4 linked regions of the Homo sapiens genome follow. The protein of the gene in region 3 interacts with the protein of the main gene of each other region in a pairwise test. Each region holds a gene or a part of one and is shown on either strand. Other genes may lie near its edges.

Region 1 (7,704 bases), on a different chromosome or scaffold from region 3:
GTTCTCTTGCTGTCGTCCTATCTACCATAAGTTTTGGGTCCCTTAATCGTTTTTTCGTCCTTCCCAATTGATTGAAAGATATTCAACAAGTTAGTGGCAGCATCAGACTAAAAGCTAGGACTCTTGATTGCTGAGTTACAATAATAGTTCAACCAGAATTAAAGTCTGCACTTTCCATATTTCCATCCTGTCACAGCCTACAGTGCCTTCTCTTCTAATTCTTAAGTAATCAAAAGAACTTAGCATTTCCTTTGTTTGGTTATTTAAATACAACTTAGCAGGACACAGAACTTATTTCTGCTTTGTTACTATTCTGTACTAAAAGCAAAAGAGAAAGACTAAGGAAAATTGTAAGAAAACCTAATAATTGGTAACATTACTATGTTGTAAATATAATTTATATCACTGAATTTCTTAGAGGAAAAACAGTGTAAGGAGGGGATGGAGGAGGGGAATGATGATAGTAGAAGCAGTTCAGGCAATGCTACCAAAAAACTTAAATGGGATTTTCCATTTAGAATACCTTTTTAAAGTTTTTGATCATTTAAAATAGATTTATTAACACAATTATTTTGTTTTGTTCCATTATAATTACATCCCCCAAGAAATACAAATTAACACACTTATCCATTTCCAAAAAGCTCAAGATTGAGAAAAATTCTCTTAAATGAACTAGTTGTCATTTTCAGTACAGTCCCCAGCATATAAATTTATAAGGAATAGCAAATAAAGATGAAAAGAAAGTACATCATTAAATGCTTTGGTTTACGCTAAAGCTACCTTTAATTAAAACCGCCAATCACAATCCTAGGGGACTAGCACTTAGATTAAGAACAGGGGTAGCCCATTGCTAATCTAATTCCCTGGGCTTCCCCCTCGCCACTGCCCACCATCTAGGCCTAATAATACTCATTTTCCTTCTAAGTACATGAGACTTTTTTTTGTCCTAGTAATTTCCTTTGTCAGCTTCCTGTAGTTTGGGGCTAGGTTCTGCTTTCACCTACCCTATTAACATCAACATAACTGGTGGCAGATGAAAAGTAACAATCTCATACAGCCTTTTTAGAAGAGCATTCAGCTGGAAGCTCTGAGCACCATGTTCTGCTCTCATCAATGTCCATTGTGATCAGCTGTGTAGTCTTTGGTAACTCTTTGAAGCTACAGTTCACTTCAAAGGATTATTATTAGGAACAAGCAAGACAATGTGTAAGTGGCAAGGATTATGGGAGACAGTCAGTGTAGTATGAAGGCTTTGGAGACCAAAGACTCTGCCATACAATAGCTATATTACTTTGGGCAACCCTGTTGCTTTCTCCTCATTTACATAATGGGAATAACTTGTCTACCATGCCTGTCTCAGACAGATACTTTTGAAGACATTATTGAAGAAATTATAAAATGTCTGACACATAACAAGCTGTTAATAAATGATTTACCTAAATGCACTATACAAATTTAAGCCCTATAATTCCTTAGTAAAGATATAAAATTCAAACAATTCAGAAGTGACTGGGGCAAAGAACTCAGGTATACTAACATTCTATTCTCCTTTAAGATTTATTGCTCTTTTTTCCCTCTTGTTTTTAAGGTGAAACCATTTGGTATATTAGATGAAATCGTCACAGTGCACATTTAGAATATTATGAATTTAAGACTAAGAAATCACCAACACAAACCACACATTTGCAGTTTTTTGCAAGTGAATTTTTTTAAGTTTCAACATTAACATTTGTATTTTGCATTAAATTATTTTAAATAGCATTACACTAGCCTATACAAAATTTGTTATTGACCTATTTGATATTTGTGTGCTTATGGAAATGGAAAAGGTTTTTAATCCCAAACCACCATCATGACACAAGAGAAAGAGAGAGAGGAGAGAGAGAAAAAGAGAAAGGGAACACATAGTTGTGTTGAAAGTAAATCCAAGAAATCGCAAGTAGCCTTAACATTACCATCCAGGAAAGTCTGTTCAAGATAATCAATGATCTGAGTGGCCTCACAAATTATGTTTTCCCCGTGGATAAGGACAGGCACTTCTCCAGTTGAGTTCAAACGCATAAACCAAGGCTCATTGTGCTCACTCAAGGGCAGACTTACATCATGTTCCTCGCACTTCAATGCCTTTTCAGCAATTACCAAGCGCACCTGGAAGAGTTCACACTGGTTACTACAACACATGTAAGCTTTCAATTAAATGACTTCCCTGGACACCGCTAAGCAGCCTTTCTGGGCTTCCCTGTGTTACCGACATTTTCAACAGTCGTTTTAACAATTCCTATTCCTGGAATTAACAAGTAAGGAAAGAACAATACTCAACAAATTAAGAGAAGAACACAAAATAAGTAATGAAATGATTCTGACTGTATTCATTAAACAGTCACCCTCCTCATCACTACCACTTTCTCGGTGTCCTAAACCTGATTATGGGTCCTCCCCAGACAAGAACCTGACATGTAGGTACATCAGCTCTTGCTGAAGACAGTGAATGCGAGAGAGCAAAAGAAGAGATCGCAGATTATGAGGGTCCACAAAGGCACCTCCCTCTGCCTCTCTCCGAAGACCAGCAGGCAAGGCCTCCAGACCAAATACTGAAAATGATGCTTTTTTGTCGCATTTCGCGAGAGGCGGAGCCTGGGCCATAGCCACATAGGATCATCTCCGATCGATTCTCCCCGCTCCCCACCCGGGCGCGTCCCCGCCTGGAGGGAGCGCCTGCCCGGGGTCAGGACACTGGAGGCGGATTTCTAGGTGGACCGGCTTCCCTGGGCGGGACTCAGAAGGAGCTGTCCCAGTGCTGAAGCCCGATCCGCGCCACCCTCCGCCGCCAAGGCCTGTTGTACCTTTTGAGAGCTGAAGGAATGCGTCCAATGGTACAGAATGAGCTTAACCTCCGCGTCGGCCTTGCCTTCCGCCCTCAAGGGCGGGCTCCCTCTCTGCTCTTCCTGCCTCTCAGCCATCTTGGGGTGCGCGAGCACGGGTGCGCCCAGCCTGTCCGCCCTGGACTTCTCCCTCCCACACTGCCCCGCAAGGCGTTTCCGGGTTTTGAGGGGTACCTGCCGGAAGGAGGGCGCGCGGCCCGCTGGGAAATGTAGTTTCGCCGGCGGCAGAGTCTGCGAACACGCGGGGTCTGCGACTGGAAAGCCCCTGGCAAGCCTGGGAGTGCACCTGGGAGGTGCAATTGAACGGTTGTTTTTTGGGTTTGTTTTTTTTTTTAGAAGAAAAAATAAAAAATATGAGACCCTGGTTATGAAGGGCAGTAAGGAAGAATGATGATAGCAAATTACTCTTCGGTTTGGAGGTTGCTCAGGTATAAAAGCAGCAATTTCCCAAGATACTGAGGGTTGCTCTTGGAGCCTGTTCCTTTGTTGGAAAGGAAGTTCCGGTCGACAAGCAAAGCAACAGGAAAAGGATCTATGAGCTTTCATTAGAAGATGCTACTATGACATTAGTGGACTAATTCCACAAATTTGACTAACTGCTGTAGATTAGAGAATAGTCTTGTATAAACAGTAAGTACTTGATTTTGATAATTAAACTGTGCTTTGTAAAAGAAAAAAAAATACCACTATGGAGTCATGCAAAAAAACTGTTTTTGTCATAAACAGCTAATAAACAATGGCGATATAAAATAGCCTAGTTGTTAAACACAAAAATTCTACAACAGTACTGCCTAAGTTCATATCCTGGTTTTTCCATTTTCTAAGTAAGAATAATAATTTTATTGTTTCCCTCATAAGATTTTTGTGAAAAATTAATAATAAAATGTTAAACACTCAGAACACCCTGTCACGTTGTAGGCACTCAGTCTTAGTCACAGGTTCAGTTGTCTTATAAACATTCTGTTATAACCATAGTCAGAATCATAATTTTATATTAGTCTAGTTATTATTGTATGTCTTTAAAAATTTGGCATCATATAGTAAGTTGATTTTAAAAATCTCTTTCAGTAATATGTATAAATATGACCATAGAATAAATGCCTGTATAATTTATCTGGCAAATATTTATTGAGCACCTACACTGTTCCAGACATTGTGCTGGCTCCTGGTAATATAAAGATGTGTGAAATCTAATATCTAACACTCAAGATATAATCTGGCAGTAGAGACGACCAAGGAAATAGACAATCACAATAAAGATGAGAACTGTCTTAGGGTGAACACAGAGTACTATGAGAAAGGAGGGGCAGGCAGCCAACCCAGGTCAGAGAAGGGCCCCTGGAAAAGACAAAATCTCATGAGGTTCTTCCTTGCCTTTACAGTACTTCATTTGTTACTCTCTGTAATTCTTTCATAATTTTTTAAGATTTCATAATGTCTTTTATATCCTTCAGTTAATTCAAGTGCTATAGAAAAGGTGAATTCCTTGCCAAAATTGTTTTTATCAGTTCACACTTAAGAGTAAGAGCGGAAAGAGGAAAACTTTGAAATCGGACAGAGTGGGGTTTAAATTCTAGCTCTACCCTAACTTGAGCTTTCTTGAGCTTTGACTTCATTGTGTGTAAAAAATGGATACATAAAAATTATATGCCTACCCAGATGGCTGTGGGAATTCAAGAAAGGATATATATAAAGCACCTAGGGTATTGCCTGGAATGTAGCCATTGATAAAAACATATGTGTAAAAGCCCCTTCACTGACATTAGGAGGGCATTATATTACATTTCATCCTCTCTCTGTAGGTCTCAAAATTTTTACAACTACCCATATAATCCTCCTCTCCCATTCCTCTTCAGAACTTCATTTTTTAATTATCCACCTTCAGATTCCTAGTTTTCTATTCCATTACCTTCAATAGCAAACACCACGCTTACTTTTGCACCAACCTTAATACTAAATCATCCTAAATATTTGAATAAATTCCAGTACTCGTGATAAGCCATGTGTCACCTGCAGCTGAAAAAGTCCTGACAATAAAGCCCTGGTCCCTCAAACACAACACTTTTCTCCATCACATCCTGCCCACAGCAAAGCCATAGAAGAAACACTGAATGACTTGATTACTTGGTGTTTAGTACAAAGCATTCATAGATCTCATTGGGAGTGTAAACATGCACAGAACTTCTGAAGGCAAATGTATCAATATGCTTCAAGAATCGTGAAAATGGGCATAACTTCTAACCTAGAAATTCCTCTATTTGCAATTTAAGGAAATAATTCTGACAAATTCTGACAGTTGATCCTACCTATTTTTCCCTTCTTCCGTGGTAATAGAAATTTTAGCTGAGCACATGACTGCTGAGAATAAAGACTGTATTTCCTAGGCTCTATTGCAGCAAAACATGGTCTCCTAACTATCTTCTAACAAGGGGAAAGTCATGGATGTGCCACAGGGCAAGTGCTGGGAATCTTTCTTAAAGAGACAATTAGCCCTGTGCCTCTTCTTCATCCCATCCTCCATCCTGCTTCAGAGAGGATGGATTCTGACCTGGACCATGAAGAATGGGGCCACGCCTTAGGAACAGCTGGGCCATGAACTTGGGGAAAATTGAGCTTCTAAAGACACTGAGGAGCAGAACCCACACCAACTTGGGTCTGCAAACCTCCAAACTTTTACTTGAAAAGGAAAAAAAGGATCTTGTGTAAGGCACTGTTATTTGGTGCTTTCTGGATGCTATTGTCTTAACCTATCCTCATCAATACATCAATCTTGTAAAATATAGGTGGCTTTTATTTCTTTATGATTCTGTATACTCTAATTGTTTTATAATGAATGTGTGTTGCTTTTACCTGTTAAAGGTGTGAACACTAAAAGAATATCATTAAATAGATGACATAAGGAAAAATGTGTTTGTTTTATCACAATAGAACTGCTACATCTACTTCCAATGATCTATAATCACTTTTTTCCCATCCCAATAAAAGCCACTGTTGGTAATATAAAAACCTTATTATCCTTTCACATGTTTATTCAGAGCTCCTACTACACTGTGTATTCTGTGTCTATGGTTTTTGTAGATCATAGACATGATCATTGTGGGCTCCTTGAGGACAGGAGCCAGGTCCAGGTAAATTTGTTTTCAATATACATTTTTTGAGCCTTAAGTGCTAGATAGAGAAGATACAGAGTTCAAAGTCAGTCACAGTCACTGGCCTTAGGGAAATCAAGTGTGAAGGCAGAGAAATGAGATCCCAACACAGTGTGGTACTTGCTGTGACATCTAGAAAGTTATAGTAGGAATATAGAGAAAGGCACCTAACACAGATAGGCTTCCCAGAAGAGGTGATAATCTTTACCATAACTAGTACCATACTAACACAATTACCATTATATCCAGGGTGGTGCCCCCACTGGCTCATGATAGCTGATTGTTAAATTTTCAGGAATTTGCAAAGTGGATGTTCAACTCAGCTATTAATCAAAATTAAATCAAACTGAGTTGCATTTAAATGAATTATTTCCGCCGGGCACGGTGGCTCATGCCTGTAATCCCAGCACTTCAGGAGGCTGAGGTGGGCGGATCACGAGGTCAGGAGATCAAGACCATCCTGGCTAACACGGTGAAACCCTGTCTCTACTAAAAAATTAGCCAGGCGTGGTGGCGAGTGCCTGTAGTCCCAGCTACTCGGGAGGCTGAGGCAGGAGAGTGGTGTGAACCCGGGAGGCGCAGCTTACAGTAAGCCAAGATCACGCCACTGCACTCCAGCCTGGGCGACAGACTCCATCTCAAAAATAAATAAATAGATAAATAATTTTAAAAATAAAACTAGCAAATACTTAAAACTCATCACTTCCTAATTATGTGTATTATTATCTATACTCCTGAGTTTATTTGTGTCTATCATATCCATACAAGGCAAACAGTATATAAGGATGTGCTACTTGCATATCTCTTCCTCTCTGTTCAGTGATGTCATGTTAGTGACTTGAAATTGGCCATGGTAGAACTATTTACAGAAATCGGTAAATGCTATCATGTTTAACTTTTTCCCAGAAAGTTGGTTGTTAAATATTTACTACTATACCATTGAATGTATCTATCTTATTTAGTATTTAATAAATTGTTTTGATGAGGAGAAAGAGAACCCTGGGTAAATTTGTGAATGAGTAAATTTGCATACTAATTTGCTTTCGGTACCTTTTACTTTCCTAATCAGCTTTTGCTTCCTTCTCCATTTCCGAGACACCCACTATGCTTATTATTTTTTCATTCTCTTCACTATCCTTAGGAAGAACATGGATATGCACAGGTCAATCTGCCCACTATCAAACACTGAGCACTTTCTCTAGCACATATTCCCAGCAGCAAAACCATGAACTAGTAAACACTGATGAACTGATGACTGCACTGATGTTCAATATTAATACTTTATAAAGAAAAGGTATAAAGTAGAACGTCTGCATCTAAAGATCGCAAATGGCTTTCTTACAATCTCATTTGATCTTCATGATAGCCTGTGAGGTAGCTACCATCCCTAAATTAGAAGAGCTTCCACTACAGTTATAGCTAAAGAAATGAGGTTTAGTAAGTGAAATACTAGTCCAAAATCCTGGAGCCGGTGACAGAACTACATCTCAGACACACATTTTCTGATTACTAGTCAAGTATTAGCTTCTACTACACTATGCTAGCCTTAAACCAAAGAGAGAAAGTTGTGGACTTGCAAACTTTAACCAGCCTGAGGTGGACTTTGGAGAAAAATACAGCCACCTTATTGAAAATGAGTCCATGCAGATGGATACTGTTCCATTAAAGTCCTT
Region 2 (7,570 bases), on a different chromosome or scaffold from region 3:
GGAGTTCGAGACCAGCCTGGCCAACATGGTGAAACCCCGTCTCTACCAAACATACAAAAATTAGCCAGGCAAGGTGGTGCACACCTGTAATCTCAGCTACTTGGGGTGCTGAGGCAGGAGAATCGCTGGAACCTGGGAGGCAGAGGTTGCAGTGAGCTGAGATCATGCCACTACACTCCAGCCTGGGTGACAGAGCGAGACTGTGTCTCAAAAAACAAACAAACAACAAAAACAAAACTGCCCAGTGGCTTCCTACTGTGCTCAGAATTAAATCCAAATGCCCATCACGCCCTGCAGGTCCCCAAATGATCCAATTCCCCCATTAGAAAGTAAGTTCAGGAAAACAGCAATTTTGCTTGTTTTTTTTTGTTTTCTTTTTTTTATTTTCTTTTCCACTGCTATGCCCGCAGGGCCTGGCACACATTAAGTACTCAATTAAGCAACAGCCGAATGCACCTGGCTATCAGATGGCCTCGTGCTGGGATGGGGGGGATGCCTATGTCACCTCCTGCCTGACATCTATAAGACACCCTCAGGGTTCAGTCGCATCTGCTGTTCATTTACAGTGTAGACTCACGGTTTTTTGCAGTGGGCAGCTGTGAGGACCCACAGTGGATGGATAAGGACCCCACCACAGAGCAAGTGGCCCGAGGTGTAGAGGGCAGCTTGGTAGGGGTGAGATGTCTTGTCGCAGGGTCCGCCATGCACCAACTTATTCTGCTCCTCTGCCCAGGCTGAGGGAGAGAAGATCTGAGTCAGAGAGGAGTTCTGGAGAAACCAAGCGCATCCCCCTCAACATGAACTCCAGTCAAGATTGGTCAGGTGCAGTGGCTTATGCCTGTAATCCCAGCTGAGGCAGGAGGATCGCTTGAGCCCAGGAGTTTGAGACCAGCCTCGGTAACACAGTGAGACCTCATCTCCACACACACACACACACACACACACACACACACACACACAAATTAGCAGGGTATGGTGGCATACGCCTGTAGTCCCAGCTACTTGGGAGGCTGAGGTGGGAGGGTCACTTGAGACCCAAGAGTTCAAGTCTGCAGTGAACTATGGATCATGCCACTACACTCCAGCCTGGGTGACAGAGTGAGACCCTGTCTCAAAAAAAAAAAGCTTCTCTGTATTTCCACTCCCAAACTTACCCCATTCCCATTACAAACCCAACTGTATCCCCTATTCCCGGGCTCTCTCCAACTTTCCAACCTACCTCCTACCTCTTCTATGTTTAGATCCCCATCCCTAAAGCCAACCCCACCCCAAACCCTCATATCTTCAAACCCACCTCCCACCACCCTCCCTATCTGTATTCCCCACCCTTAGCCTAATCCCCAACGTCTTCCTCATTTCAAAGCTCCCCCACCCCAACCCTGTGCATATCCCCATCCCCAATACCAGCCTCTTCTCCATCAACAAGCCCAACCCTGTCTGCAAGCCTCCCCCATCCAAATGCCCTTTCCCCACCTGCAGCAATCAGACTCAGCACCACCATCAGCTTCTTCATGGCCGCTCCTGAGAGGGGAAGCCACATGGTCCATTAGTCACTGCCTCGACCCTCCCCCCATCCCTCTGTCTGCTCCCTCTGCATCCTCTCCTTCCTTCCTGGCCTGCTATGGTCTCCTGCCTTGACCTCTGTCCTTCCCATCTAGCCTCCTGATTTATTCTTCCTCAGCCCACATCTTCCATCAGAGGATCCCACGAAAACAGTGCCAAAGAGAATTCAGAACTACGTCCACTGGTCCAGTAACCCATGGTGAGATTCTGATTAGATCTTTCTACTTTCTTGGGCACTGATTTGCCTTCCTGTCGACAGGAGAGGGTTACCCTAGGGGGCCCTAGCGTTCTTCCTCTGTATGGGAGTTTTCCTCGGAGCCTGGCTCTGTGCGCAATGGCCACCCACCCCGCCCACCCGGCAGGTTCTGTGATGTCTGTGATCTCACCTGCTGCAGGCCTCCGGGCTCCGGGGATTCTTGAGTCGGGGGAAGGAACAGCTTTGAGACGAGGAGGCAGAAAGAGTTAGAAATGCGGGGAGCCGTGAGGAGAGAAGACACTCAGATGCAGTGGCAGAGCCAAGCGGAGGACGCAGGGGCCGCAGAGCCCAGGGCTGCAGGGACTGCCAGACACACACCCCCAGCTCCCAGGCCTCCCTGGAAGAGGCTGGTTCTGTCCCCAGATGCTTCTGGAACGTCCTTTTAACCCCTGTCTCTCAGGTCCCTGAGCCAGGAGACTGGCTACACCCTTTTCCTCCTTACCCAGGCCTCCCACACACATTCCTCCCGCCCCCACGCTCTGCTCTTGGTGACCCCTGACCAGGCCTCCAGGGAAGGGAGCACTGGTCCCTGAGTGCAGTGAGGGCCTGGACTCCTGGGTCTGAGGGAGGAGGGGCTTGGGGGCCTGGACTCCTGAGTCTGAGGGAGGAGGGGCTGGGGGCCTGGACCCTTGCGTCTGAGGGAGGAGGGGCTTGGGGCCTGGACTCCTGGGTCTGAGGGAGGAGGTGAGAACTTGGACTCCTGGGTCTGAGGGAGGAGGGGCTGGGGGCCTGGACTCCTGAGTCTGAGGGAGGAGGTGGGAACTTGGACTCCTGGGTCTGAGGGAGGAGGGGCTAGGACCTAAACTCCTGGGTCTGAGGGAGGAGGGGCTGGGGCCTGAATCTGAGGCAGAGGAAGTTCTAGTCGGCTCAGTCCTTAGACCTCCGGGTTTTGGAGAAAGAAAGTGTCTGAAGACAAATTCCGGCCTCTGGGGCAAGCAGATGGTGCCCCAGGCCTCCCTGCACCCCCAGCACTCTCTGTGCCACCCAGGGACCTGCAGGCCCTCACTCCGGGCTCTAGAGCCCTCCGGCACTGGGAAGCAGCCTGCCCAGGTTCAGTGCGGTTGGGGTGACTCACACACCTGCCCGTAGGTCCCTCTGTGTGCTGCCTGCCGACCTCTGTGTCCCCAGGAGAGAGCGAGCCAGCCAGCCGGGGAGACAGCTACAGCGTGTGTCACCACACTGGCCCCCGCCCCTGCCCCGGGCTGGGGAGCAGGCCCAGGCGCGATGGGGAAAGGGCCCAGGAACAATCGGGCTTTGTCCGCCCCCAGCACCCCAGTGCCATGCTCCCAGCAGCTCCGGCCTCAACCTCTCTTCCGGCGGGCAGGCGGGAGGGCGGTTACATCAATGGCTTCCTTTTGTCCCTGTCTGACAGTCCTCCTTTGCAGTCTCTGACTGCCCACCTGGCCCTGACTGGAGATTTCGGCACTCCACATCCTCCTGGTCCTTCTCCTCCAAGTCTGCCCACCCCTGAGGTCTCTTGCTCCATCTGTCTCCCTGGCCATGGAGGGGAGGGAGCTTCCATCTCTCTCTCTCTCCCATCTCAGTCTCTGTATTTGTGTCTCTCTCCCTCTTTTTTTCTCTCTCTCCCTTCCTCTCTCCCTTCCTCTCTCCCTTCCTCCCTTCCTTCCTTCCTTCTTTCTTTCCTTCCTTCTTTTCTTTCTTTCTTTCTTTTTTTTTGACGGAGTCTTGCTCTGTCACTCAGGCTGGAGTGCAGTGGTGTGATCTCAGTTCACTGCAACCTCCGCCTCCTGAGTTCAAGCAGTTCTCCTGCCTCAGCTTCCCAAGTAGCTGGGATTACAGGCACCCACCACCACGCCCGGCTAAATGTTTTTTGTATTTTTAGTAGGGAAGAGGTTTCACCATGTTGGCCAGGCTGGTCTCAAACTCCTGACCTCAGGTGATCCACCCACCTTGGCCTCCCAAAGTGCTGGATTACAGGTGTGAGCCACTGTGCCCGGCCTCTCTCCCTTTCTTTCCCCTTGATTCTCTGACTCTCCGTGCTTATCTTCTCCTGGGTCTCTTCTTAGATTTCCCCGGGGGTAGCACTGTGTGTGCCCAGAAGGGAGTCAGTTTCCCCAGGAAGTAGCGGGGATGATTCCCGAGCGATGAGGAAGCTAGCAGGATGGAAGAGGACTTGAGGACTTATTGATGAGATGCGGACACACAGCGAGAGGCATGGAGTTAAGCAGAAATCGGAGAGCACTTGGGAACGACGTGGGGCTGTGATAAGATGGTGGTGCTGGGCAGTAGCAGAGGGATCTGGGAAGATTTAGGGAGGTGTCTTTGAACTTGGGCCTAGAAAGCTGAGCCAGGCGTAGGTCAGGAGGAAAGGCCGTGAAAATGCCTGGCCTGGGTGCACATGGGAAACCACAGGCAGTGGTTGGGGTGGTTGGTATGGGCTGGAGGGTGAGGGTGTGTGCGTGGCAGAGTGGAGAGAAATGAGGAGGGGGAAGTCACTGCGTAATAAGGACAATGATAGGAATGAAGTCTGGCTCAGCACCTGCTTGGGCTGGGCACTACAGGTAACTTAAAAAAAAAAGTTCTTTTTTCTTTTGAGACAAGGTCTTGTTCTGTCGCCTAGGCTGGAGTGCAGTGGCACGATCCTTGCTCGTGGCAGCCTCAACCCTCCTGGGCTCAAGCGACCCTCCCGCCTCAGTCTTCCCAGGAGCTGGGACCATAGGCATGAGCCACTGTTCCCAGCCAACCCTTTTCTTTGTCTTGCATTGAATCTAATTGTCATCTTGCATTGTGCACCCCCCATCACTCCAGGGATGAAGACTACTTCGGTATTCAGTATACTCTCCGGGTGCTCCCTCTCACATTTGGTCCCCACTGACCTCAGCACCTTCTTCTCAGGACGTGCTATCTTCACAGACAGCAAGTCTGATGTTGCACAACCCAGTGACCAGGCCCTATCCCTCTGCCTCCTCTCTCTGGGGGGTCCCTTCCTCTCTGTACCCACACCCTCAACCCCAACTCAGAGCTGCACCTCTCCCACCTGGACCAGGATCCCTCTGTTCTCTGTATCCCTTGCCCCAGAGAGACCTTCCTGTGCCTTGTGCTGACCTTGCCCCTCCTCTCACAGACGTGCCCTGGGTCCCCATCTCCCTTGGGACCAAGTCCCAGCCCCCCAGCCTGGCATTTGAGGACCTTTAGCATCCAGGGAAGTCCTGGCCAATGAAATGTGATGCCAAGCACGCATGCACATTTACATTTTCCAATCACCATACTTTTTTTTTTAAGTCAGAAGATTTTTTAAGTGTCCTTACCACAAAAAATAAGGGTGTAAAATAATGCATATGTTAAATAGCTTGGTTTAGCCATTCCACAACATATACATACATATATCAAACATGATGTTATACACCAGAAATATATACAATTTTTACTTGTCAATTAAAAAATAAATTTAAGGCCAGGCATGGTGGCTCATGTCTGTAATCCCAGCACTTTGAGAGGCCAAGGTGGGTAGATAGCTTGAGTCCGGAAGTTCATGACCAGCCTGGGCAACATAGTGAGAAACCATCTCTGCAAAAAGTAAAAAAATTAGCCAGATGTGGTGGTGCACACTTGTAGTCCCAGCTACTCCGGAGGCTGAGGCGGGAGAATTGCTGAGCCTGGGAGGTCGAGCCTGCAGTGAGCTGTGACTATACCACTGCACCCCAGCCTGACATGGCTGGGCAAGGTGGCTCATGCCTGTAATCCAAGCACTTTGGGAGGCAGAGGTGGGAAGATCACTTGAGCCTAGGAGTTCGAGACCAGCCTGGACAATATAGTGAGACCCTATCTCTAAAAAAAAAAACAAAAAAAAGAAAAGAAAAAAATTACCTAGGTGTGGTGGCACACATCTGTGGTCCCAGCTATGCAGAAGGCTGAGGTGGGATAGTTGCTTGAGCCTGGAGGCCCAGGTTGCAGTAAGCCATAATCACGCCACTGCACTTCAGTGTGACAGAGCCAGACCCTGTCAAAAATTTTTTTAAAAGGAGTCCTGAGTGGTGAGTGGCCCTCACACTGCATGACACAGCTATGTCTACGTCTCCGTGTGGCTCCAGCTTTCTAGAACACATCAAGCTTCCCTGACCCATGCCATGCCCTCTGGCCTCTGGCCCTTCACTGAATGCTATTCCCTCTTCTTCTTGAGATGGAGTCTCGCTCTGTCGCCCAGGCTGGAGTGATGTGGCGCGATCTCTCTTCGCCTGCTGGGTTCAAGCAATTCTCCAGCCTCAGCCTCCCGAGTAGCTGGGATTACAGGCACACACCACCATGCCTATATTTTTAGTAGAGATGGGGTTTCACCATGTTGGCCAGGCTGGTCATGAACTCCTGACCTCAGGTGATCTGCCTGCCTCGGTCTCCCAAAGTGCTGGGATTACAGGCGTGAGCCACCGTGCCTGGCCTATTCTCTCTTCTTAGCATGTTTTCCCCACCTTTTCCTGGCAATAACCTGTCCTTCAAGTCTTTACTTGGACATTACCTCCTCCAGGAAACCTTCCCTGAACACCACCCAGCTGCCACCTGCTGTAGTTGGATTACTCATTCTCTCACGTAGGTTCCCACAGCAGGTGTCTCCCTCAACCCAACCTGGACGGGGGGCCACCTGGATTGACATTCGTCATCTCTTCCACTGGACCGTGAGCTCCTTGAGGGCAGGTACGGGACTGACTCATCCCTGTGTCCCAAGCAACCACACAGGACCTTGCCCAGAAGAAGCCTTAGGCAAGACTGACCAAATGACTAAATGACTTTATCACACCCACTCCCATTTTACAGATAAGAAAACTGAGGCTCAGAACGGGAAGTTCATTGCTCATCATCAAACATCCAGGAAATGGTGGAGCCTGAATGGGAACTCAGCTTCCAACATGGCGTGGATGTGGCCCATCCCTTGGTGGCCTGGCTGGGTCTATCTTATGACAGTACGAGGTGAGTGAACTTGGGAGGAATTGTTGAGAGCTGGGTGGGGAAAGAAGGGAGGTGTTAGGCTGTGGGGAGTGGAGGGACTTTGAAGAGAAAGAAATTTCTAACTCTACCTCTTCTCTGGTGACCTTCATGGTTTGCCATCTCTGCATACTTTGAATGCTTATTTACTGGATAGTTTGCTCCAGATTGTCTTGCTCTGCAAAACTCTTCACTAAATAAATTCTTCTGTCTCGGTGCAGTGGTTCACACCTGTAATCCCAGCACTTTGGAGGGCTGAGGTGGGAGGATTACTTGAGCTCAGGAATTAGAGACCAGCCTGGACAACATAGTGAGACCCCGTCTCTACTAAAAAAAAAAAAAAAAATCAGCCCAGGCATGGTCCCAGCTACTCGAAAGGCTGAGGCAAAAGGATTGTTTGAGCCCAGGAGACTGAGGCTGCAGTGAGCTATGATCATGCCACCAAACTCTAGCCTGGATGATAGAGCAAGACCCTATGTGAAAAAAAGAAAAAAAAAATTATAAGGAAACTTCATGAGACTGTAAGCAGAAAAAAGTGCCAGAAGTCATAAACAATAAAAACCAATGCCTGGGCCAGGCGCGGTGGCTCATGCCTGTAATCTCAGCACTTTGGGAGGTCAAGGCGGGCAGATTGCCTGAGGTCAGGAGTTTGAGGACAGCCTGGCCAACGTGGTGAAACTTGGTCTCTACTGAAAATACAAAAATTAGCCGGGCATGGTGGCAGGCACCTGTAATACCAGCTACTCAGGAGGCTGAGGCAGGAGAATCACTTGAACCTGGGAGGCAGAGGTTGCAGTGAGCTGAGATCGCGCC
Region 3 (7,023 bases):
GTCAGCACCTCCTCCAAATATTTATTGAGTATAACACCATCATGAACTCAATTAAAGCATTTGTTTAAGGCAGCTTCAGAATATCTGCATGGACTTAGTCTGCATCTTATTCAAAAAAATTCTTCCAGTTGATTTTCACTTACTAATATAGAAATATTGGTTATTAGAGCCCTCAAAAATATCATTGTCCAACTAACTCAGTTTACTCAGAGCAGCTAAGAGCTAGAGAGCTCTGTCCAGAACTACAAAGCTAATTAGAGACCCAGCCTGGGAAGATACTCAGACTTTTTGATATTTGCCTGGTGCTCTTTCCATAGTGACAACAGAAAGAAAAGTGGTACCTTAGTCTCAAGCATTTTAAGTCATCACGTGTAACATAGTAGAGAACATCCAATAGTGTATAATCTTCAGCCAAAAACTGTAGAGAAAGTAGAATATGCACAAAAGATGTTTTATATAACTTTAATAAAGCACAAACTCTATTCATAATGTAAACCTTGACTATAATTAAAAATGAATCTAAAAATGAAATCTACTAAAAACACAATCTTCCAGGATTATTAGGGGAAAGGCCTCCCTGTTACTCAATAAATACAAAGAAATGCATCCAGGCCGGGCGCAGTGGCTCACGCCTGTAACCCTAGCACTTTAGGAGGCTGAGGCAGGCGGATCATCTGAGGTCAGGAGTTCGAGACCAGCCTGGCCAAAGTGGTGAAACCCCATCTCTACTAAAAATACAAAAAATTAGCTGGGCGTGGTGGCGTATGCCTGTAATCCCAGCTACTTGGGAGGCTGAGGCAGGAGAATCGCTTGAACCCGGGAGGCAGAGGTTGCAGTGAGCTGAGATTGACCCACTGCACTCCAGCCTGGGCGACAGAGTGAGACTCCGTCTCAAAAAAACAAAAACAAAAACAAAAACAAAAACAAAAACAAGAAATGCATCCATATTAACTTCCAAATGCAAAAAGATTACAAGTGACACAGAACTTCTGAATGGTCTTCTAATGAACAGATGAGACTCACTTGTAATCACTCTGCTGTTCAAAAGCAAATCTTGTATTTAGAAGTTCAATGCTACATAGCTTTGTTTTTCCTCAAGTGGATAAAAAGTGTTCCTGGAAAGGTACTGCCTATGCTTAATTTCTGAACTTATTTTTTCATGGTTAAGCAAAGGCACTTGACTGTAATTCACCATAAAAGCAGAGTCTTAATTTAAACTGCACCTTTATATTTTTAAATTTTATTTATTTTTTTATATATAGAGACAGTCTCACTATATTGACCAGCCTAATCTCCAACACGTGGCCTCAAGCAATCTGCCTATGCTTCCCAAAGTATTGGGATTACAGGCAGGAGCCACTGCACCTGGCCTCAAGCTTTTACTTTTAAACCAAATAAAAAGGGTGATTATTTAGTAGATTATCAATTACTATTCCTTAATTAGGATTTGAGCCTAAGTTAGAGGAATGTATATTCTGGAGTTGTTTAAATTTATTCAGCTGTAACTTGTTAAATGTAGATTTCTAAGGCGGCCCGAAATTCTACTTAGTTAATAAATTATCAAGTCAAAAGAAGAGATATCTTTATTCTTATTTATTTTTAAAATTTAAATATAAAACAAAACAATATTGTATTAAGAGGGTCTTTCTATCAAATATTACAATGTTTTAATGTATGCCTGTGTGTTCATATAATGAACATAAACAAATGCTATTCACGCTCATTACAAAAGTCTATAGGGGCTGGGCGCAGTGGCTCACACTTGTAATCTCAGCACTTTGGGAGGCTGAGGTGGGCAGATCACTTGAGGCCAGGGTTCGAGACCACCCTGGCCAATATGGTGAAACCCTGTTTCTACTAAAAGTACAAAAATTAGCCAGGCTTAGTGGCATATGCCTGTAATCCCAGCTACTTGAGAGGCTGAGGCAGGGAATCTCTCGAGCCTGGCAGGCAAAGATTGCAGTGAGCTGAGATCGCACCACAGCATTGCAGCCTGGGCGACAGAGTGAGATTGTGTCTCAAAAAACAAAATCAAAAAAAGTCTATACAGAGCAGAGAGGAATTAGATTATTACAGGTAAAATATGGTTTGTATAGAAAATATTTCTGAAATAAGTCGACCAGATTGATTTTATTAAGTAGCAATAAAATAGCTGCTGCCCAGTGGAATCTAATAATGTTGAAAAAGAATTAAAAATTTAACAAACAGGCCTGGCGTGGTGGTTCATGCCTGTAGCCCCAGTACTCTGAGAGGCTGAGGTGAGAGAATCGCTTGGGGCCAGGAGTTTAAGACCAGCCTGGGCAACATAGCGAGACCCTATCTCTAAATTTTTTTTTTAATTAGCTGGGTATGATGGTTCATGTCTGTAGTCCCAACTATTCAGGAGGCTAAGGTGGGAGGATCACTTGAGCCCAGCAGGTCAAGGCTGCAGGGAGCTATGATCACTGCCCTCCAGCCAGGGTAACAGAGCGAGACCTTGTCTCCAAAAAAATATAAAATAAAATAAAATAAAATAAAATAAAATAAAATAAAATAAAAATTAACATACAAAGAATTAGAAACAAGAAATTTTTTCTTTTAGTCCTGTCTTTATTTTTTTCCCACTCTTTCTGGTTTTCATTTCAAATACATAAAATTCCTAAGGGGCTCAGGACCACAGAGCTTTTGCCTGCCTCGTTGGATTGTACACACTGCAGCCCCACTGCACAAGGTTCTTCCCTGGTCTCCCTCCCACACCCCTCCTGAACATACATACAATTGGCCTATTTATACCCTCACATTCTGTTAGCCTTCAGCTCTTTCATTCCCTTCTCCAACAACCTTCCCCAACCTCTCTCGCCCTATCTAATAAACACCTGATACCTTTTTCTTCATAGAATTTACCAGTGTAGAATCACATTTGTATCTGTGGAGTTAGCTGATTATCACGTGCCTACCCTGGTCTGTAAGCCTCAGGAGGGCAGGGCTGGGTCTGATTTGCTCACCAGTGTATCCCCTGTGCCTGTCACATAGCAGGCACCCAACATTATGAAACGAAGTGAAAGAATACTTGTCCCACAGACAGTTTTCTTTACCCGGCTTATAGTGTCTTCATCAGCTCCATTCACTCTCAGCCAGTCGGTAAGTTCAGAATCTTCAGTATTTGTGCCAGAAGAATTTAGATGAAATACAGGCAATTCAGGAATTTCTAGAACAGAATTTTGGGAAGATATTCTTAATTTCACCTAACAGAGGTCATCTGAGACCCTCACAATCAACAGACATTTATTGATACTTTAAAAGATTTTGCTCTATCAGAGAACAGTTCATAGAAACAATTGAGATTGGCAGTATAGATGATAATATGAATAAAACTCAGAGAAGTGAATTTACTAGTAAATAAGGAGCAAAAGCAATAATGAAATGACACTCCTACGTTACACTTTCATATCAATTTTATGGTTTCTTAGAATAAACTCTGTGCACCAAAATTAGACTTTGTGTTTTTCATGCAATAAAGATGAATACAATTAGCAGAGAACTATATAATTATCATAATCTCTTTTTCCACTATGAAAGAGCCACATATCTAAACAAATAACTATGAATTCTGTTTTCCTCTAAATGGGCTAAATAACATTCTCCCCAGCTATGCCTTTTTACTACTACATCTTTATTCTATTTAAGCCTCTTCAAATTATAAGGAAAAAGGCTAGAATACACAGAATATAAATGCAAAATGACAAAAAATAGTATTATTTATTCTAGTAAGCTCATTGTGAAATCTTTAAAAATAAAGACTAAAAACAGAGAGCCCTGTTTACCTCAGTAATACATAATCTCAGGAAAAGATGATTATGAATAATCTATTTTTACTGCACTTATAAGAAATGAGTTTGCTACAGTTAAAAACTGGATTTTTTTTTTTTAAAGGAATTCCTGCTTGCAGTCATGGTAGAAGTGAGAAATGCTGACTTAGCCACAAATAAAACTTCCTGTTGGCTTTCTTGGCTTTTTGTGGCAGCCTGGCTGAACAGTATTACTATAAAACTTTCTGCTATTCACCTATGGGTTGGGACTTAAGCTTCAGGTGTTTAATTTCTTGGTCTTTTTCTTCAATAGCTCGATGAAGGAGTGCTTGTAATTCTTTCTCTTTCCGAACCAATTCTTCCAGTAATCTGCAGAAGAAAAATATATTGTTTGACAGGAGGTGACACAGGGTGACCTTCTTTTTTTTATTTTTATTTTTTTAGATACAAGGTCTCTCTCTGTTGCCTAGGCTGAGTGTAGTGGCCCAATTATAGCTCACTGCATCCTTAAACTCTTGGACTCAAGCGATCCTCCCATCTCAGTTTTCCAAGCAGCTGGGAATACAGACATGCACCACCATGCCTGGCTAATTTTTTTTTTTTTTTTTTTTGTAGAGACAGAGTCTTGCTATGTTGTCCAAGCTGGTCTCTGAACTCCTGGCCTCCAGTGGTCTTTCCACCTCAGCCTCTCAAAGCTCTGGGATTATAGGTGTGTGCATGTGCCACTGTGCCAGGCCTAGGATGACCTTCTAGACATGAGCTATAATAAGCACATACACCCCTAATTTTATTGAAATACAGATACTGGTCCAGTGCCCCGGGGGTGAGTTCTGAGACTGTATTTATAATGAGCTCCCAGATGACACTGATGTTGCAGGTTCACAGACCCTCAGGTCCAGAAGCTAAGCTTTGGAAGACTGTGCTTGCCGACAAGAATTCAAAACCTCCACCACAGATTGTCTGCCAAAATCTTCAGAGATGTGTCCTGATATTTCTTGTTATGACCATAAATGTCAAAGATATAAATATGGGATACAGATATTAACAGGCCTATATTTTACATGTATGGACCCCCATTAAAAAAAGTTGGCAAATGTGCATAATTTCATAATCAATGCAAATCAGAAAAGTAATCACTTTTTGTAAACTATGAAAATTTGAGAAACAGTCATAGGTGAGGTCGCCTAGAATATCTGGCATATAACAAATTCTCAGTAAATGTTCACGGTTGTTGCTACAATTGTGATTGTTACTATTATTCCTCTTCCTTCTAAGGGGGCGGGGGTGAAGTGGGTAAAAGGATAGCTGTGTTCCTGGTACATTCAGTTCCTAGTTGGCATCTGATGCAGTCTCCAAAGAAACAAGGAGAAACTGTGATATTCATACCAAAGTTCTTACCCATAGAAGGTTCACTATGCAACTGAGAGCCAACTGGTAACCTACTCACCATTTCCAATAGAATTTCTCAAAGAAAACATTCCAAGTTATGAAAAGAGGTGCTCTAATTTTTTAGAAAAGTATCTTAATGTAAGTTGGATTCAGAAATAATAATTTAAAATATATCGTTATTAAGATTATCAGGATAAATCGTTGCATAAACTACAGCTCTTAACAAACTCTATTTGTTTCATTTTCTGAGTATTGATAGATTTAACTCAAGAGTTTGTTTCTGCTTCACTTGACATAATCTGAAGGCAGCATCGTGCAACTGACAGATCTGGGCTTGTGTCCTGGTTCAACCCTGCACTTCCTGTGTTAACCTTAGATAAATTACCTAATGCCTCCAGGCTTCAGTTTTCAAATCATTTGTAAAAAAGAAAACTAAAGCTTCCAGAAAAGATTATTGTGAGCATTAAATGAGACAGCATAGGTACAGTGCCAAGTCAGTGTCTGGTCTTTAATAAGGGATGTTCTGTTCCTTGCTACCTCAGTCCCTGGAAAAGAGCCTTTCCAGGACTCAGTGGGAAGGAAACCTTCCCAGACCCCCAGGCTCGACCCCATTCCCACAGGACATAAAGATGAGATCCTCAGAGAGAAGGGATCACAGCAGAGTAGGTAGCAGAGGTGGGACAAAAGTAAAACACAATAAGAGGTAGACAGAGAAGGTGGGTGGAGGAAAATAAGTTAACAAAGACAGCTGCAGGGTAAGTGTGGTGCACAATGAGGTGGATGAAGCAGCATGAACTGAAAGCTAGAAGAGGGAGCACAGGGTCTTGGAGGGAGGCTTCTTATCTCTTTCAAAACAAATATTATCCAAAGAAATGGGCAGGAAGCTCTGTGTGAATGTTTAAGTTGGCAGTTTTTTGATCTGGTATGTATTTTTGTCCTACTTGCTAATTTATACGTATAAGACAGTGATGGTATCTTCTTACTGTTTTCTCAAGGAACACAGTGATGTTTTCTAGAGTTTAACCTATGTTTGTCTAGACTATGTAATTTCTTTTTATCTTTTGTTAAAGTGAATGAAATATGGCCTGAGAAGGACTCCGTACTTGCATATTTGAGTCCTCGTGGACAAACTATAACTTAACAGGTAGACAAGATTGAAAACCTAACTTAGGAGTATGCGTCTATAACAATAGCTGAGTCTTGGCTAATCCCAGGAGCCATACTTCAACCACTCATACACTGCTGAGTGTTCAAATAAGGTGAACGCCAACCCATAACAAATCCAGCTCTTTCTGCACACTTCTGATTTCTGTACGTCACTTTACTTTTATTTTCTATAAATTTGTTCTGGCCACGAGGCATCCCTGGAATCTCTCTGAATCTGCTGTGATTCTAGAGGCCACCTGATTCACAAACTATTTTTTTCTTTTTCAATTAAACTCCATTAAATTTAATTTGTCTGAAGCTTTCTTTTAACACCTTAAACACCAGAACTTCAACACTGGAAGCAGAGTATTGACAGCCCACCTCATTTGCTCCGAATCCAGCTCTTAGAAGTATTTATCTTAAGAACAATCCAGTACATCAATTTTATTTTTATTTTGTGTTTATTTAGCAGGGCAATATTTTGAAATCAAGGCAACTGTCTGCCTTTCTGTTCCAAAAAAGTATGGCAGGATCTGCCATGAGGTCAATTTTTAACCTTGGATGGGCAGGGGTGATGAGGTGGATTGGTGGGTAATTCCAGAACTGTAGGATGGGGAAATTAAATAAACAGGCAGCTCCTCTTGAGACAGGTTTTTGTTTTTGTTTTTGAGATAGGGTCTTGCTCTGTCACCCAGGCTGG
Region 4 (7,023 bases), on a different chromosome or scaffold from region 3:
TGGTCTTGCCTCAAACCTGTTGAGAACTTCTCTTCCCTGCTTCTCTCCATAATTTGAAGAAGCAAGAAATGTTTCTGAAGTGAAGCATAAAGGAGTATCTTCAAGCTCTATCTCATACCTACCAGCTTGCATAGAGTATAATAGTGGGAAGAAATATTGTGAAAGATTCTAGAACCTAAGTCCTTTCTAGGCTAGGCAATTCTAGGCTACACAATTCGTAGTCTCTGTAAATACCATTTGATAACTGAAATAAACCTATAAAGTGGGATTAAATGTTAGTCCAGAAGACTAAGTGATTTAAGGAAAGAGGGAAAATAACCAGATAGATTTCTGGTGGATATTCATAGACAGACATAATTTCATCATGTATTATGGCCCTAAGTCATCTATTTTATATTAAAACATAGATGGTAACTGTAAAGTTATCAAATGTAAAAATTACTGGGCTAGCATTGTGTTTTAACACTGATACACCAGTTGATTACAGTGTTGACAGAAAACGGGCAGAAACACGTTTAAAGTACCTGCAGAATATATATATAGAAATCTTTTTTTTTTAATCAGTGTTGACCAGGTTGGCCTCGAACGTGTAGCCTCACCTCCCCGAGTGCCAGGGCAACCGGCCTGAGCCACAGCGGCTCCCTAGAAATCTTAAGTGCAGGAAACAAAACTACAGTTTAAGGAAACAGGAGTCGGAGAGGAGGGGCATTTGGCCCAACCACTGGCAAAAGGCTGTTGTTGCAACAACTGTGAGATTCTGGGAAGTGGGGAAATGAGCAGGTGCTGTGTAAAAGTGCACAGCTGACTGCCCCAGGTGAGACAGATCAGTGTCACAGAGAGTAGGAGGATTTTGAGGTGTGATTAGTATTTTTTTTTTTTTTCTTAAAGAGATGGTCTCGTTCTGGAACCCAGGCTGGAGTGCAGTCGTGGCACGATCATAATTCACTGTAGCCTTGAGCTCCTGGGCTCAAGTGAACCTCCTGAGCAGCTGGGACTACAGATGCATGCCACCGTGCCCAGCTAATTATTAAATTGTATAGACAGGATCTCTATATGGTACCCAAGTTGGTCTCAAACTCCTGGCCTCAAGCAGTCCTCCTGCCTCAGCCTATTAAAGTGCTGGGATTACAGGAGTGAGCTACCACACCCAACCAGTAGGAAATCTTAAAGCCACATTGATACTACAGTTTGAAATATGTAAAAACTAGGGAGCTATGTTTCCCACTAACTGGGCATTTAAAATGTAATCGTCTTTGAGGAAGGAAGAAGGCTCTGGATTATTCTTGTAATAGTTTGAATTTAAAAGGTCCTTTCAGGTGGGCAAACAGCTTACGTGGCTTTCTTGCACTGAAATAGAAACTGTAGTCCCCATGTGGGTTTGGGTCCCTGAATTATCCCCAGAAGAACTTCCACAGTCCGGAACTGACTCCCTTAAAGAAACCAAAAATGTATTTTCTTTGGTGGGGATTTTCTTTAGTTGGTCTTTGTCTGGGATTTTATATCAGTGACAGACTGTAGCGTCACACTTTTCCAGAAATACGGTTTCGGAGAGGGTACCCCTAACGTTTTATGTGTGTGTGTGTTACATTTAGCAAGTTTATATAACATATTTTACTTTTTTTTTTTTTTTTTTTTTTGAGACAGTTTCGCTCTTGTTGCCCAGGCTGGAGTACAATGGAGCAATCTCGGCTCTCTGCAACCTCTGCCTCCCGGGTTCAAGCAATTCTCCTGCCTCAGCCTCCCAAGTAGCTGGGATTACAGGCATGCACCACCATGCCATGCCCGCCTAATTTTGTATTTTTAGTAGAGATGGGGTTTCTCCATGTTGGTCAGGCTGGTCTTGAACACCCGACCTCAGGTTATCCACCTGCCTCGGCCTCCCAAAGTACTGGGATTACAGGCGTGAGCCACTGCGCTTGGTTAGAACTTATTTAACTTTTTAGGCACTTGGTAAACGGTAGCTGTTAGTCCATGTGTACTTTTTTTTTTGGTGGGGGGGGGAGTCATGCTCTGTCACCCAGGCTGGAGTGCAGTGGCAGGATCTTGGTTCACTGCAAGCTCCGCCTCCTGGGTTCACGCCATTCTCCTGTGTCAGCCTCCCAAGTAGCTGGGACTACAGGTGCCCGCCACCTTCCATGTGTACATTCTTGTTTAACAATTCAGGATAGGTACTGTTACTCCCCTTTACAAATGAGACTTTCAGAGGTTGATTTTCTCATGGTCAAACAGCTAGTAAGTTGTGAATTCAAGATTCAAACTCAAATTTAGAGCTCTCATTTTAACCACTATGTAACAATGCCCCATGAGGCAAAGGGATAATATGTCTAGTATACATTCTGGTATATTAACCATTGTCAGCACTGGTGACTGAAATCCAAGAACTCTTCATAAGTGGGCTTACTAAACAAATAATTTTATCTGTTGGGTGCAAGTCATTTTTTTTTTCCAAATACGATTAAGAACAATCTGCCATTTATGGGTTTTAGCTACAACAGAGAAACATAAGAGGGAAACTCACATATCTGGATTTTGCTTGTTCTGAAGGCTTGGAGGCCTTTTTTTTTTTTTTTTTTTTTTTTTTTTTTTTTTTTTTGCTTAACAAAGTATTGAATTTGAGTTTCTCCTGAGTTAAGAAGTGCAGGACTATGTTACATTTTATTTGGGGTATTTTAAGAAATTATTTCATATTCTTGGCACCAGTTGTTTCTCCATATTGCCTTTAATGTATTTTTCTCCCTGCACCCTTTAGTATATTTTTATGCAGGCCCCAAAATTTCTGTCTCTAGGTTGCTGGTAAAATTCCTCCTAGTGTCCAAGTGGAGGCAGCTTGTCTTCTGTCCCAGCATTTTGGTGCTCCTCCCGCCCCTACTCCTGGCTGCAGTGGCATTCCCTTCTGCGGTGGTGAGTGTTAGCACTTCCAATGATCCGAACCTGGCACAGCTTCTGAAGCCTTCAATTCGGATGCCTCTAGGGACAGTAGCATGCAGTAATGCCATTCAGATGGTGTTGTATTTAATCCTTGCCAATCCCCATGAAAATGTTCAGTTATGTCAAAAGCAAGGCAAAAACAGTCTCTTGGCTATACAAGGGTAGCTGTTTTATTTGACTAAAATTTAGCTTAGAGTGGATGTTACTTACCCGAACTTGCCTGCTCTGAGCTTGAAGTTTAGCCTATTTGTGGTCTTACAGAATTGCAGCCTCATCCTGGTGAGGATAAGGGGCTCAGCCTGACCCTGGCTGGTGATGTTCTTGCCCAGTGGCCTGTAGGACTTGGTCTGTTGGTGGATATCTTTCCAGCTTGGGGCAGGCCAGGCAAGATCCTCACTTCCTAAGCATTAACTTGGGAAAGAGCTCAGCAAGCTTTCATCCCTCTAGCTCATTTTTTGTTTTTTTGAGACAGAGTCTTGCTCTGTCGCCCAAGCTGGAGTGCAGTGGCACAGTCCTGGCTCACTGCAACTTCCACCTCCTGGGTTCGAGCGATTGTCATGTCCCACCCAAGTAGCTGGGATTACAGGTGCACGCCACCATGCCCAGCTAATTTTTGTATTTTTAGTAGAGATGGGGTTTCTCTATATTGACTGGGTTGGTGTCGTACTCCCTGGCCTCAAGTGATCCGCCTGCCTTGGCCTCCCAAAGTGCTGGGATTACAGGTGTGAGCCATCACACCTGGCCCCTCAAACCCTCAAACTGACTTTTCTCACACAGACACACACACATACACGTACACACACACTTCTGCCAAAGAAGCTTAAAGGTTTTATGATGTGGTTATGTTTACTTAATCATGAGAATCATTTACTCATATCAAAAGCAAGCTGGTTGATAGCATGTAGGTGTGGGTAGCTATAAAGGATGAGCCCATAGCATGTGTGGAGCTGTGAAGGATGGCAGCATATTCGAGTGAGGTAGCATTACCCCTAACTTAGGCAGCTATGGCCTGGCAGCTCGGGGGTGGCATTTTTGTTTGCTCAGTGTTACTTTTGATGTTGGATGTTTCCCAGATTGAGAACTTTAAATTTTCCTAAATAGTCCCTGTACTGTTTTTGGCAGTGGATCTATTTTTACTCACACACATAGTTTTTTGCCTTGTGAGTAGTGGGTGGAGGCCCTTAGGGGTTTTTGGGTAAATGAATAGTGTCATAGGAAGATAAGTGAATGATCAGCAGGCCAGGTCATTTTTGACATTTAGTAATGTTGGGGGTAGTCCTGGAGCAGAGAAAATGTGTGAAGTGAGTGCCCTGGGGTGGGGACTAGGTGTAGCCAAAGGCTGTTTGGTCAGGACGTGAGTAAAACTGGCTGACAGGGAAGTCCAATCCTTAAAAGAAATGGAGAGGAGGGCCTTTGTGCATGGGAAGAGCCCATCAGTTTAAGGTTGTCCTTCAGGAAGGGTGTAAGTAGGATTACAGAGGGTGGGAAGGCAGGCAGGACACCTAGAAAGCAGAGAGGCTGTGAGCAGGGGTGGCGAAACCCCTGGTTTGTGGCCCGGTGAAGACTCAGTGCCTAGTGTGGCTACACTGAGGGAAGGTGCCGTGTGGCAGAAATGACTGTTGTAATCTTGGTGTTAGAGCGGAAAGAGGCTGAAAACTATTGTCTAGGCCTGTCTGTAAAATTCTGTCTTGTTGTTGCTTCATGTTCCTGATTTGTGGAGATGCAGCAAATGTGATTTCATTAGATTTTGCAGATGATCTTAGGTAGCATGGTCGGGGCCTGGAGAGCATCCATTACTCTGTGTTGCCACCCGGTGTTTGCCTCTCAGTACAGTTTATGACTGAACTTTTCATTAGTTCTCCTGGCTCCTGTATTTTGGTATTTGAAGTGTTGGGAACTGGTGCTAAGTATCATCCATCAAGATTGGCTATCCATCTTTTTGTTTTAATGGACTGTCTGATTTTACATGGGTCTATAATTTTCCAGTCTGGGAAAAACTCAGTTTTCTTTAGTTATCTGGTCAAGTAGTAAGCCATCTTCATTTCATGTTTCCTTTTGTTAACTGAATTATAACCCAGGAGTATTAAAAAATACTGTATTTAAATGTATCCAGTTATTTCCTAGTTAGGCTCTGGCTGGGGTATTAGGAACAATATTTGCTTGCTGAGATATGTTAGTCACCCTCAGCTAATGCTGATAGTGATTCATTCAGACTGGCAGGCAACCAGATGATTTTTACATAAACACTAATACTCCCAGTAAATGATTTTTCTTGTGAAGGTGTCATCATAAATACTGCCCAGTAGCCTTTTTTGGCAGCTTATTCCTGATGGAGAAAGAATATGCTTACAGATACACCCAAACTTCACGTTAGTAGGAAGCCCTGCCACACCTTTTATTGGTGCACAGGAAAAACGAAATCATGGAACATTGGAGCTGAAGGAGGCCTTGGAGATCATTTGGGCTAATCCTGCTTATTTTACTTTGGATGTCCAAAAAGGTTGTGATTTGTTTAAGGTCACATAGCTAGCTCAGACTAAACTTCAGATGTCTTGGGTTTAATAATTATACCGCCTTTTGTGTTATGCAAGCATTCTGTATTATACATACATGTATTTCAGATTTGTACTCACTTTAAATGATATACTCTGGGAAGTTACCTTGGTGTATCTTTGCCAGTTTCACAGAAGCAGCTTTGTTAGTCACAGGAGGAAGTATATTGTGACTCCTTATGGATATTATTTGTATTTTAATGCCAAATGGCCTTAGTTTAATTACTACAAGATGAAAGGAGCTCTCCAAATTCTGTTGTTGCCTTATGCTTTGTTTTATTGAATATTGCTCTAGAAACGCAAGTCATTCTAGAGGATTCAAGCATTCTGAAATTTATCAGAATATTTGGGATGGAATTTTGATTCAGAAGTGTTGTTCGTTAAAAGACTAAGTAGTTACTCATCTTTTTGTAGTTCATAAGTGTGATGATTGGGTTTTGACATGCAGGTGTGAGATGTGCCACCCTCAAACCTTGTTACAACATAGACATGTGACCCTCTGATGTGGGCAAAAAAAGACTAAGTTATTAAATATTTACAAAGTCTCTATTTTCCGTAAGAAAATGTATGTAAGTGTTTAAAGGCACTTACTGGAGGAGGAAACTAGTGGGGTTATAGGTGTTCAGCTGGATTTAAGGGGAGCATGGATTGTAGATTCATGGTAGACTGGGGCAGATCACAGTGAGAGGTATGGAGACTACTAATGAATATGTGAGGATGAATAATGAGAACCCTGGCTTGACCAGAGTGGAGGCAGCACCCCTGGGGAATGGTCAGGATAGCTGTTAGCCAAAGACCACACTGAAGAAAGAAGTGGGTAGGCAAAGGAGAGACTTTGCCTGTGTTAAGGGTTTGTAGCAGAAGAGTAGGGGTCCTGGGGACAGGGAAATGGAGAAATTAAGAGTGAGCTGGTATTTTTATTTTGTCTGGGGCTTGGGGGTAGGGAGGACTCAGACAATTGCTTGTTTTACTTTGTGAGAACTTGGCACGTTTTCTGATTTTTACCTGTAATAATGATTACACTTGCTGCTTATGTCCTTGAACCACTAATTCCCCAAATAAACCATCATTGTTCATGATTTCTGATACTCCACTGCTCAGTCTTCTCAATCCATTTTAAGTGTGTCTATTTGAATATGCTATTGATAACTTTCCCCAATGAACTTGGCCTTTTCCCTCTGGAGGTTCTGTCCTTACAGATTGGTTTAAGTAATACCTTTTTTGTTTAGTGTTTTATGGTTTCCTAAGTGCTTTGCTTTCTTTTTTTTCATTATTGAAATTAAAGACCTTTTGGATAAGCAGAGACTGATTTAATAAAATTAAAGACCTTTACCAGTAGGTCATATTAAGGAATCCCTCTACTTTAGACGACACACCATCTTTTAAGGGCTTGTGAAATGTCCTGGGTCAATTTAGGAAGTCATTTTCTTTGCTTGGGCCCAGACCAACTCTGTTAGCAACTCTGTTAGGAACTCTTGTTAGGAAACTCTGTTAGTTTCCTAGGGGGTGCTGAACCTAGTACGACAAACTGGATAGTTTAAAA

What was found.
Region 1: the proteins of MAP3K5 (region 3) and GDAP1 interact in binary tests that used the Homo sapiens proteins (3 or more experiments, as listed by UniProt).
Region 2: the proteins of MAP3K5 (region 3) and KLK6 interact in binary tests that used the Homo sapiens proteins (3 or more experiments, as listed by UniProt).
Region 4: the proteins of MAP3K5 (region 3) and YWHAH interact in binary tests that used the Homo sapiens proteins (3 or more experiments, as listed by UniProt).

The regions. Positions count from the first base shown.
Region 1 is NC_000008.11:74,345,718-74,353,421, reverse strand, and holds the start of GDAP1 (ganglioside-induced differentiation-associated protein 1), read right to left. Parts: upstream 3,020-7,704; 5' UTR 2,961-3,019; coding exon 2,844-2,960; intron 2,151-2,843; exon of another isoform or gene 2,149-2,150; coding exon 1,956-2,148; intron 1-1,955. UniProt on the Homo sapiens protein: Regulates the mitochondrial network by promoting mitochondrial fission.
Region 2 is NC_000019.10:50,966,592-50,974,161, forward strand, and holds the start of KLK6 (kallikrein-6 isoform A preproprotein), read right to left. Parts: upstream 3,001-7,570; 5' UTR 2,899-3,000; intron 2,177-2,898; exon of another isoform or gene 2,001-2,176; 5' UTR 1,950-2,000; exon of another isoform or gene 1,926-1,949; intron 1,763-1,925; exon of another isoform or gene 1,682-1,762; intron 1,522-1,681; 5' UTR 1,514-1,521; coding exon 1,474-1,513; intron 906-1,473; exon of another isoform or gene 735-905; coding exon 578-734; intron 1-577. UniProt on the Homo sapiens protein: Serine protease which exhibits a preference for Arg over Lys in the substrate P1 position and for Ser or Pro in the P2 position.
Region 3 is NC_000006.12:136,558,459-136,565,481, forward strand, and holds part of MAP3K5 (mitogen-activated protein kinase kinase kinase 5), read right to left. Parts: intron 4,158-7,023; coding exon 4,045-4,157; intron 3,188-4,044; coding exon 3,075-3,187; intron 419-3,074; coding exon 342-418; intron 1-341. UniProt on the Homo sapiens protein: Serine/threonine kinase which acts as an essential component of the MAP kinase signal transduction pathway. Plays an important role in the cascades of cellular responses evoked by changes in the environment.
Region 4 is NC_000022.11:31,947,522-31,954,544, forward strand, and holds part of YWHAH (14-3-3 protein eta), read left to right. Parts: exon of another isoform or gene 1-1,631; intron 1,632-5,882; exon of another isoform or gene 5,883-5,985; intron 5,986-7,023. UniProt on the Homo sapiens protein: Adapter protein implicated in the regulation of a large spectrum of both general and specialized signaling pathways. Binds to a large number of partners, usually by recognition of a phosphoserine or phosphothreonine motif.